Regions from separate parts of the Homo sapiens genome. Here all the other regions are reported to be linked to region 3. Evidence: microRNA targets listed by miRTarBase, many of them from high-throughput screens and not tested one by one. Region 3 holds a microRNA gene; each other region holds the end of a gene's coding sequence.
Evidence for each region. Region 3 holds the annotated microRNA hsa-miR-103a-3p (AGCAGCAUUGUACAGGGCUAUGA, at 2,077-2,099, shown strand). A microRNA usually pairs through its seed, bases 2 to 8, with sites in the 3' UTR of a target mRNA and lowers its output. Matches are read on the target gene's strand: a 7mer-m8 pairs with bases 2 to 8, a 7mer-A1 pairs with bases 2 to 7 and ends in A, and an 8mer does both.

Region 1: miRTarBase lists UBFD1 as a target of hsa-miR-103a-3p. Seed matches in the 3' UTR shown: 7mer-m8 at 1,533-1,539.
Region 2: miRTarBase lists STAMBPL1 as a target of hsa-miR-103a-3p. Seed matches in the 3' UTR shown: 7mer-A1 at 2,386-2,392.

Annotation. Positions count from the first base shown.
Region 1 is chr16:23,570,150-23,573,245 of GRCh38, reverse strand. It overlaps UBFD1 (ubiquitin family domain containing 1), which reads right to left. Exons shown (of 7, transcript NM_019116.3): 7 at 1-2,766. The coding sequence ends at 2,656. Among named protein-coding and RNA genes, the nearest start is that of UBFD1, 14 kb to the right of the region's middle.
Region 2 is chr10:88,922,772-88,925,867 of GRCh38, reverse strand. STAMBPL1 (STAM binding protein like 1) reads right to left here. Exons shown (of 11, transcript NM_020799.4): 11 at 2,381-2,700. The coding sequence ends at 2,644. Among named protein-coding and RNA genes, the nearest start is that of ACTA2-AS1, 8.4 kb to the left of the region's middle.
Region 3 is chr20:3,915,465-3,918,620 of GRCh38, forward strand. MIR103A2 (microRNA 103a-2) reads left to right here and starts at 2,030; the gene lies at 2,030-2,107. PANK2 (pantothenate kinase 2) reads left to right here. Exons shown (of 7, transcript NM_001386393.1): 5 at 1,463-1,586. MIR103B2 (microRNA 103b-2) reads right to left here and starts at 2,099; the gene lies at 2,038-2,099.

The DNA.
Region 1 (3,096 bases), not on the chromosome of region 3:
TCACTCTCCGGAAACCAGCTCTTCCTTTATCCACCTGCACGGCCCCTGCCACAGTGAGGGAAAGATCTGGTCCCTCTGACAGTAAGGAAATTGTATAGAAATTATCCTGAGGAAAAAAAAAACCACTGTGACGCTACCTAAAAGAAAGAGTATTTCAATTTGCTTACACAGATTTAGTCAGTACACTCCAGACTGTAAGAAATGTATGAAGAGACTGCTTACGGAACTCAAAGACTAAACAGTGAATACTACTGTGGCCCAGACACGGATCGAAAACACTTCTCCCAGTGGCTTCTGGTGCTATGTCTGCTCTCCCGAGAGCGTCCAGCAAGGTCTTCCATGCAGACAGGGTGAGGAGCCACAGAGCTCAAGATTGTTGAAGCTGATTTAGTGAGCTCTGTAAAGCAATACTCAAACAGCTCCGTACGAAAAGGTGTCATTTACATTATTATTTATATATAGTATCTCGAAGTAAGGAAAAAAGCACCATTTTACTGAAAATAAAAAGGCTCACGCAGGCTTTGGTCCTCCTGAAATGACACCAGCCTGAGTGAGAAGCAGTTGGCCCTTGGGGAGCGGGGAGATGATGGAACGCTGTCACCGGCAAGAAGGGAGGCCAAGTGGCCCGGCAAGCCACAAGAATGGGGCAATAAGGGGAGCAGGTGGAGGGGCCTCGGAGAGCAGCCAGGCTAGTCTGGGGATGGAGCCACCTGCTCTGAGAGATCAAAAGTAGGTGTGCGGCACTGTCAGGACAAGTCTCTAGGACTGGGGCATTGGCAAACAAAAGGGGCAATGTCTGACCCGAGATGATGTTCTACTTAATGCATCTCATTTCCCCCAAAACCTGTCACCTGCAGACAGAGGCTTGGACAAGTAGCTCAGATGTACTCTTTTCCCCAGGAACTGCAGGCCGACAAGGACAGAAAAGCTGCAATGACTGCTCCTTTCTCAAGGGATGAAAAAACAGGCTGTTTCTTGGATGCTGCACTTCACAAATGTACTAATTGCCCCCAAAAAAGCAAAGAGTAGATTTTCCTGCCTAGATGCATCACTTGGCATTGACTACACCATGGAAAGCAAGAGTCTGTCTATGTGGGCTGGATTCCTGAACTACAGCTTAGAAGGGAAGGGCGTAGAATATCATCATTAACTGGCTCACAAGGAATAGTCATCTTGGGCGAACACATGCTAATACGTTTCACAGAATGAGGGGTGACAGCCTAGAATCCAAAATGTGATGTTTGGAACATTTCTCGCCAAACCTTACTATGAAAGCCTGCAACCAGTGAGAGGAGAACTGCAAAGACGGCAGCAGAGAAACAGCAAACAGCACAAAAGAGATAATTTACCAAGAGACTTTCCCTCCTTTCAGAGGCAACCAAGCCAGAAGGAGATGACAGAAGTTCACGTGTACAGAGAACAGAAGGGCTAAAACCAGAAGAAGGTGAGCTAATCATGAAAGCAATTTATCCCATTTTTGTTGTTCAATAACACTGGCCAACCTGCTAGGGTCAGATGTCTTCTTCAGAAAGGCAGCATCTCTGAACCTGGGATAAAGGACACTTGAACTGAATGCATGAGCAGAAGGACCCAATGGAGAAGCATAATTGAAATCATCCTTGGACTGCTTAAGAATTTCTTGAAAACTTCCAAAGAAAGAAGGTTATCTGGATCTGCAGCTATATGGCTGTATAACTATCTTCTACCTGGCTCCTCCTGGAAGAGGTCTTTGTCTGCTTGGGAGCTGGGGCTGTTGAGCGGCACAGCCCAGGCACAACCATGCCAGGCTGGGCCTCTAGGCCAAGCTCAGTGAGGGGTGCAGACAATCATCCAACCAGCAATGGAACTCCTTGGAGATGGGGGCCCAAAGGGCAAGACATTTAAACAGGAGTCACTGGGAGATACTCTGCTGCTCAACGAACACCACAGCAAGTGTGAGAGCTCCTTGCCCAAGACTGAGCAGCTCTTCCTCTCCCACCGTGCGTTCACAGGCAGCAGCAGCACGGCGGGAGGGAGCCCAGGAAAGGAAGCGTTGATGAGGTACCAAAAGAAGAACTGACATCTTTGGGTTCTTAAAACAAAAACTCAAATTGAGGAAGCGAGAGAATGAAAAAGGGAAAGAATTAAATCTGAATCAATGGACAGAAATATGTGGCTTACTAACCCACCCCCATTTTGCATACAATTTTATACAAAAAAGGAAAAAAAAAACACCCCAACTCATTGCAATGCAGTCCAAATGTTTGCAACCAAAGATGTATGAAAATATTTCAATTGAAACTGCTTTTTTTTTTTTTAAAAAAAACAAAGCTTTTGATCATTCCCTTGTCAACATAATTGGCAGATCTACTCTCAAACACACTTAAGAGTATTCCACACAACATGTTCGGAATTCAGATTTATTGATTTCCATCGTATTGACTTTAAAAATGGTATGAAGCTGACTGCAAGAAAGGGAACTGGTAATTTTAAGTTAAAATTAAGCTAATGGTGAAAGTACATCACCTCTGGCTTCAGTCACCACATCACCTCAGATTGAATATAGATTTTTTATGAACAAAGTTCCAGAACTCTGAAATCCAGGGATGCTGCAGGCCTCTCCCGGCAATGTCCTTCACTTTGGGTCAGTCTCCTGGGCCAGAGGTGAAAGTGCTTTCAAAAATACTGCCATTTCCCCAGCACAGTGTCTTTGATTGCATCCACATATTGAGTTGGAACCCAGTACACCCAGTAGTAAGAGGCTTCCGTGGGGCCCAACTGAAACGCCTGGAAGGGAAAAAGGAAAACCAAGCGGTACTTCAGAGGTCGGGAGACCAAGCAGGCAGGACAAACATGGGTGAGGGTTGGGATGTGAGTTAATTAAAAAGGGAAGAAAAACCAAACAAAACTTTGCACGTGGGGAGCATTCTCCCAACCAAAAACAAAAACAGGCAGGCTGAGGGTTAAGCTGAGCCAACCCTAAAGCAGCAGTTCTCAAACCTGAGTGGTCATCAGAGCCATCCGGGGGGCTTGCTGGAACATGGATCAGCAGGCTCCAACCCTGTGAAGTTTCTAATTTGGGGAGGTCTGGGGTGGGGCCTGAGAAACTAGCAAGCT
Region 2 (3,096 bases), not on the chromosome of region 3:
CTCATGCACATGTGTGTGTAGTGGCGTCTCCAGGTTGGTTAACAGGGTCTCTGCCTCACGACCAGTCCATTACTTAGTGATGTGGTCACATTTCTGTTGGTTCTTTCAGACACAGCCCCAGGGCCTCATTCTGCCAGCCAAAGTCAGGCTCTGGTTTGCCGCCTCCAACAGTCCCACTCTGTGAGATCCTGGTTAATTTGGTTTGTACTTGGCAAAAAAAAAAAAAAAAAAAAAAAAAAAAAAACCTACAAAAAAGTGCCAAGAATGTCTCCTTTATTTAGGAAATACAATATACTTTCTTAGTGAAAATGAGTTCTCTTCTAGTTTGCTATTCAGAAGGGACATAATGGTTTTGCATACTCATAGCTTCTCTTTCTAGTCTTTCTGGAAATCTAAGATGCTAAATGTTCTTGGCCCTCAACTGAGTCCTTTCTATCTTTAGGCACCATTCAATGTCCATAGCTTTTTCATCGGACAACTCTCATTTTACATCCTCTTAGTGTATTACTATAATTTTTAATTCTATACAAAGGATCTCACTCATTTCTCAACTATCCATTGTCCCAACAATTATTTTTACTTGAATAAAGAATATAACATTTTCCTTTGATCAAGCATATCAGAATATCATGGTGTGTTTAAGTGTTAAGACACTGAGGACAGCACCACTCAGGAAAAAGTGAGGTGTCTATGGAGCCAGCCTTGCAGAGTTAATCTGCTCTTAACTAGTGGTGGCCATAGACTAAAGTCTCCATGCACAAGGCAAGCCAAGCTCTACTTCTGAAGTCTGATACCTGAGCTCTCCATAGCTAGAAGATTCCATGAAACAGAAACAAGCCACTGACTTGCCCATAGTAGGTGGTTCTGTATAAATGAGAACAGGAACAGAATTCAGGTGACATGATACCAGAATTGAGAACTAGACAAGCAGGGAGGGTTGATGCATTAGTCCATTCTCATGCTACTATAAAGAACTGACCAAGGCTGAGCAATTTCTAAAGGAAAGAGGTTTAATTGACTCACAGTTCTGCATTGCTGGGGAGGCCTCAAGAAACTTAAAATCATTGCGGAAAGGGAAGCAAAACACGTCCTTCTTCACATAATGGCAGGAAGAAGTGCTGAGCAAAAGGGAAAAAGCCCCCTATGAAACCATCAGATATCCTGAGAACTCACTCACTATCATGAGAACAGCATGGAGGTAACCACCCCAATGATTCAATTACCTCCCACCAGGTCCCTCCTACTATGATTTAAGATGAGATTTGGGTGGGGACACAGCCAAACCATATCAGATGTTAACCCATCCAAGCACAGAGTACAGGAAATACCACTCTGGAATATGGAAATCATTGAACTAAGCAGTGGAAGCTAGTACATGGAAACATGAGTTGTTTAGGCAACTCAGATACAATGTCATGAGGAAAGCAAAGGCAGGGAGAGCTGTGGCTGGCACAGAAGACATTGGGAAGACAGAAGGTTTCATAGGATTAGTTTGGCCCTGTTGAAAAGTTGTGGAGATCCAGGGAGAGATGGCTGGAGAAGGAAACTTAAACGTTGAAAAGAAAAAAGAAGAAAGCTAGACTAGAGTAATGTAAGGCCCTAAAGGATGAAAAGGGAGACTAAGAAGTGATCACAAGTTTCTCGATCAAGGAAAGGGCTGTCAGCCCAGGATTTCCCAATGTGCCTGGGAGCAATGTCTTCCAAGATAAAGATTTCACCTGCAGAACTAGTCTTCAGTGTCCCAAAGGACCTATTCTCAAATAACTCAACAATATCACTTCCATTCTGCCCTCTGTGTATCTGCAGCTAAGATTTCTCCACACTGTTTCCATCCTCAGGTTTTTCCTACCAATTCAACTTGCTAACAGAGTTAGCAAGTTGACTAAGAATTATCAGTTATTTCTTATGTCTCATTTCTTCTTCCTATCACCCCTGTTCATTTTCACAGTAACAGGTTTTGTACTTTTATCTGAGTCTTTTTTTAAAAAAAAAATCCTCTCTCAAGCTTCTCTACTTTTAGTCTTCTAAATCAAATTAATGAATTGTCTGCTATCCCAGGCCCTCTGACACCTGATCCCTGAATAGAAGTGTTGTTCTTGTATCTTACACAATGATTCACTGCAGAGATATCTCTCTGAGCCTGGGATTTCATGACACTGAAAACACAGAACAAGCTTTATCAATGGCAGCCATATTTCATCTACACATGGAAGCTGTTCACCTACCTCAGGGGAAGGTTTCAGAAACAGATGGTCTGCTTTGGAGACTATATACACTCAGAATTTCTTATTTGGAATTACATTTTACATGAATAAAAAATATAGCAAATCATCTAAAGCTCTAAAAATGTATGCAGAGACCTCTATAAATACAAGACATGTTGTTTGCAGCACAATTTATTATCTGGCCATAGTATTTGGGTACATTATCAGGTACCGATTTAACACCATGTAACCTCTCTTGACACAGAGCAACCCAAAAAGAAAACTTTAAAATGTGCAACAGCAATAAATATCAAGCTTTGTCATCTAAAATGTATAAATATAAAATATCAGTCATTTCTGGAAACATCTTAAGAAAATCCGGCAACCACATGTCCATGAGTAGGTGTCTGATGTTGACGGTGCTTACATTCAGAACATATCACCTCAGATCCAACACAATTATTTTTATGTCTTTTACCAACACATGTTTGCATATCTAGGAAAGAAAAAATTGGTTTTACCATATGTTTGATTTCACCATAATGTTTACCATATGATTTTCTTTAGGGAGGAAGTATAGATTTCCTAATTTTAATTTGTTCCTGATTTTTAAAATATTTCCAATCAGAACAAATACAATCACATTTATTCATTTTCAACAACAACAAAAATATTTACAGGGGTTGCCAAATAATTTTCATTTTAAGTAAATTCTAACGTCAATATAATGTTCTCTGATGTTATAGCCACAGAACCTCCAAGAAAATTAGGAAAAAAAAAGGCGTAGTCAAATGTTTCTTTTGGACTATGCAAAGGTAATCAAGAAGTATGATCATAGTTTCCATCAATTGCTATGAAAAAACTAATTTGGCCATATCAAGCAGAAAGAATT
Region 3 (3,156 bases):
TTTTTGTATTTTTAGTAGAGACAGGGTTTCACCATATTGTCCAGGATGGTCTCGATCTCTTGACCTCGTGATCCGCCCACCTTGGCCTCCCAAAGTGCTGGGATTACAGGCGTGAGCCACCACGCCCGCCAGTTTTAGCTCTTATATTTAGCTCTTATATTTGATCCATTTTGAGTAAGTTTTTGTGTATGGTGTGAGGTAGAGCTCCAAGTTCATTTCTTTTTGCGTGTGGATATCCAGTTGTCCTAGTACCATTTGTTGAAAAGATGATTCTTTCCCTGTTAAATTCTCTTGGCCCCTTTGTCAAAAATTAGTTGACCATAGATGTTTGGGTTTACTCCTGGACTCTTAAGTTATGTTCCATTGATATATATGTCTGTTTTTATACCAGTACCATACTGCCTTGATACTGTAGCGTTGTATTAAGTTCTGAAGTAAGAAAGTGTGAGTCATCCAACTTGTTCTTTTTTCGAGATTATTTTGGCTATTCTGGGTACCTTGAGAATATGAATTGTAGGGTTAACTTGGCAAGGTCTGTAAATAAGACAACTGGGATTTTAATAGAGATTACATTGAATCTTTTGGCCATCCTAATACAAAGTCTTCTGATCCAAAAAGATGGAATGTCTTCCCATTGATTTAGATCTTTGCTTTCTTTCAGCAGTGTTTTGTAGATTTTATTGTACAGGTGTTAATACTTTTGTTAGATATATCCGTAAGTGTTTTATTCTCTAATGCTATTATAAATGAAATCATTGTCTCCATTTTGAGATCGTTTAGAAGTACAATTGTTTTTCGTATATTGGGGCACATGGCTTTTACTAATAGAAAAATCATATGTATACATGCTTGTTTACTAAGTTTTAGGCACTTGGTCAATGCTGTTGATTTTCTGTTTGTAACATTTGCTCGTTGGTCATCACTTCCTTTTCTGATTGGAAAATTATTGTAGCAGTTCTGCTGAGCATGTACTTTGAAGTACTTTATCTTCTAGGGAAACCTGAAATTCTTAAGCAGCTCACTCTGGGACTCAGCTGTCTGTGCTTTACTCTGCTCTGATAGAGCAGTTTACCAGATGTGCATGTGGCCATCTGAGTGGAACAGCTGTGCAGTTGAGATGAATTGCTGTTAGAGGTGTTGTCCTGGAACTGTCTGGTTGCAGGAGCAATGGTGCCTTCCAGTGCATCTGATGAGATTCTAACTGAATATGTGAATATCTGGTATCCAAGCTAGATTTCAGTAGAAACCGCAGGGAAAGCTGTCTGCTCATTTAGAATGTTGGAGGGCTCTGTTTGAAGTTTGCATTTCTCTTTGAACAGATGCTCCATTGCAAAATAAAAGGTTTGAAGATTTCAACAATGTTGCCCTAAAAGCTAATTTTATTTCAATAAAGTAACATTCAAGTTCTGTTGGGCTTTGTTGCTGTTGGTTTAGCAATGGGATTTTTTTTCCCCCATCACAGCTTTGGAAACATGATGAGCAAGGAGAAGCGAGAGGCTGTCAGTAAAGAGGACCTGGCCAGAGCGACTTTGATCACCATCACCAACAACATTGGCTCAATAGCAAGAATGTGTGCCCTTAATGAAGTAAGGGGACATGGATTTCTTTAATTGCTCTAAGGAAAATACTGAACTTAAGTGGGCCCCATCACGTCTGTTTTCTCAGAACAGTGCCTAAATGTAGTCATTTGGGGTGGGGTTTGTTTTAGCACGAAGTTAAAACTCTTCAAATACAGATTAATCTTCTTTTTTTTTTTTTTAAACTGAAGATAAACATTGCTACTTGTCTAGAGGTAAAATGACATCTTTTGAGGAGAAAGTAGAGGAAGAGTGGAAGGTAGCCAGTGTTCCAGATATTGGGGACTGTTGGGGGTGATGATGGATAACGATGCTGAATGTAGACTCCACACTCACTGCTGAGCTCTAGAGGCCCTAGGGAGGAATCCAGAGGAAGTCACGGAAGCTGGGAGAAGACTGAGCAGGCCGAGGGGTGCCCTCCTTGGCTCCCCCACCTCAGCAGAGCTGCGTCTTTGTGCTTTCAGCTTCTTTACAGTGCTGCCTTGTAGCATTCAGGTCAAGCAGCATTGTACAGGGCTATGAAAGAACCAAGAATGGGCTGCCCTTGGGAAAAGAGGATCTAGGATCCAGTTGGTGCAGCTTATGGCTTGTCCCTGTGTGTATAGTTGTTAAATTATTCTTTTATTTTTATTTTTAAGAAGTTATTCTTTAGATAATAATAGGCATGTAGCTTAAAAGGAAACCTCAAAAGACACAAAGGATTTGTCTCATTTTAAATTAAAAAAATACTGTATCAGCATCAAGTAATTAAACATTTGTTGGAATATCATAACTTCTTTTTTCTTTATTGTATGTTCCCTTTCCTGTGCTTACGTATTTTCAGAAATTTTAGTTGGTGTGCATACCACAATTTGTATTTTATACTTAAATATACATTTCATGGTTGTATATTTATTTGATCAAGTTCTTTTATATCAAATAACAGAGCTTGGCATTTGGTTGCTTGCTCATAACTCGGCAGTAAGCATTTTTAAGCATGAAGTTATTCTTTGGTTGAATTTTATTCTTGATATGGGGCTTAGGAGTGAGATTTCTGGTCTACAGAAATGATCATGCTCATGAATTTTGACATTTATCGTCATGATGCTTTGCACAAGGGCTGCACCAATTTAGATCATCTTTAGCGGTGAATGAGTGGATTAATTTTACTACAACTACTGATGGTGGTGGTGGAATTTCAGTTGCTTTTTTTTGCGAGGTTAATAGGTCTAAAATTTTACTTTTGTTTGATGACTAGTGGTTTGAATTTTTCGCTGCCTGTTATATTGCTTGTATACTTTGCCTGTTTGTGTCACTGTCCTTTTGGATTGGAGTCATACTGTTTTTTTTTGTTTATTTTAACTTATCTGTATAAAACATTGTATTCAAAACTAGTTATTGTTGGTCAGATTTAATACAAATGTTTTTCCTAATCTGTTTTCTTCTCCTGTGACATTATCTAGCATGCTTTGCAGTGGGTCCAGAGTTGTCTGGGGATCAAGTTTAAGTAGCCCTGGACCAACTGGACTAAATTTGATCAGCAGTCAAATTGTTGCTAAGAGCTATGCACATGGTGCTGTATTTGGGGTAGCTTTTATGA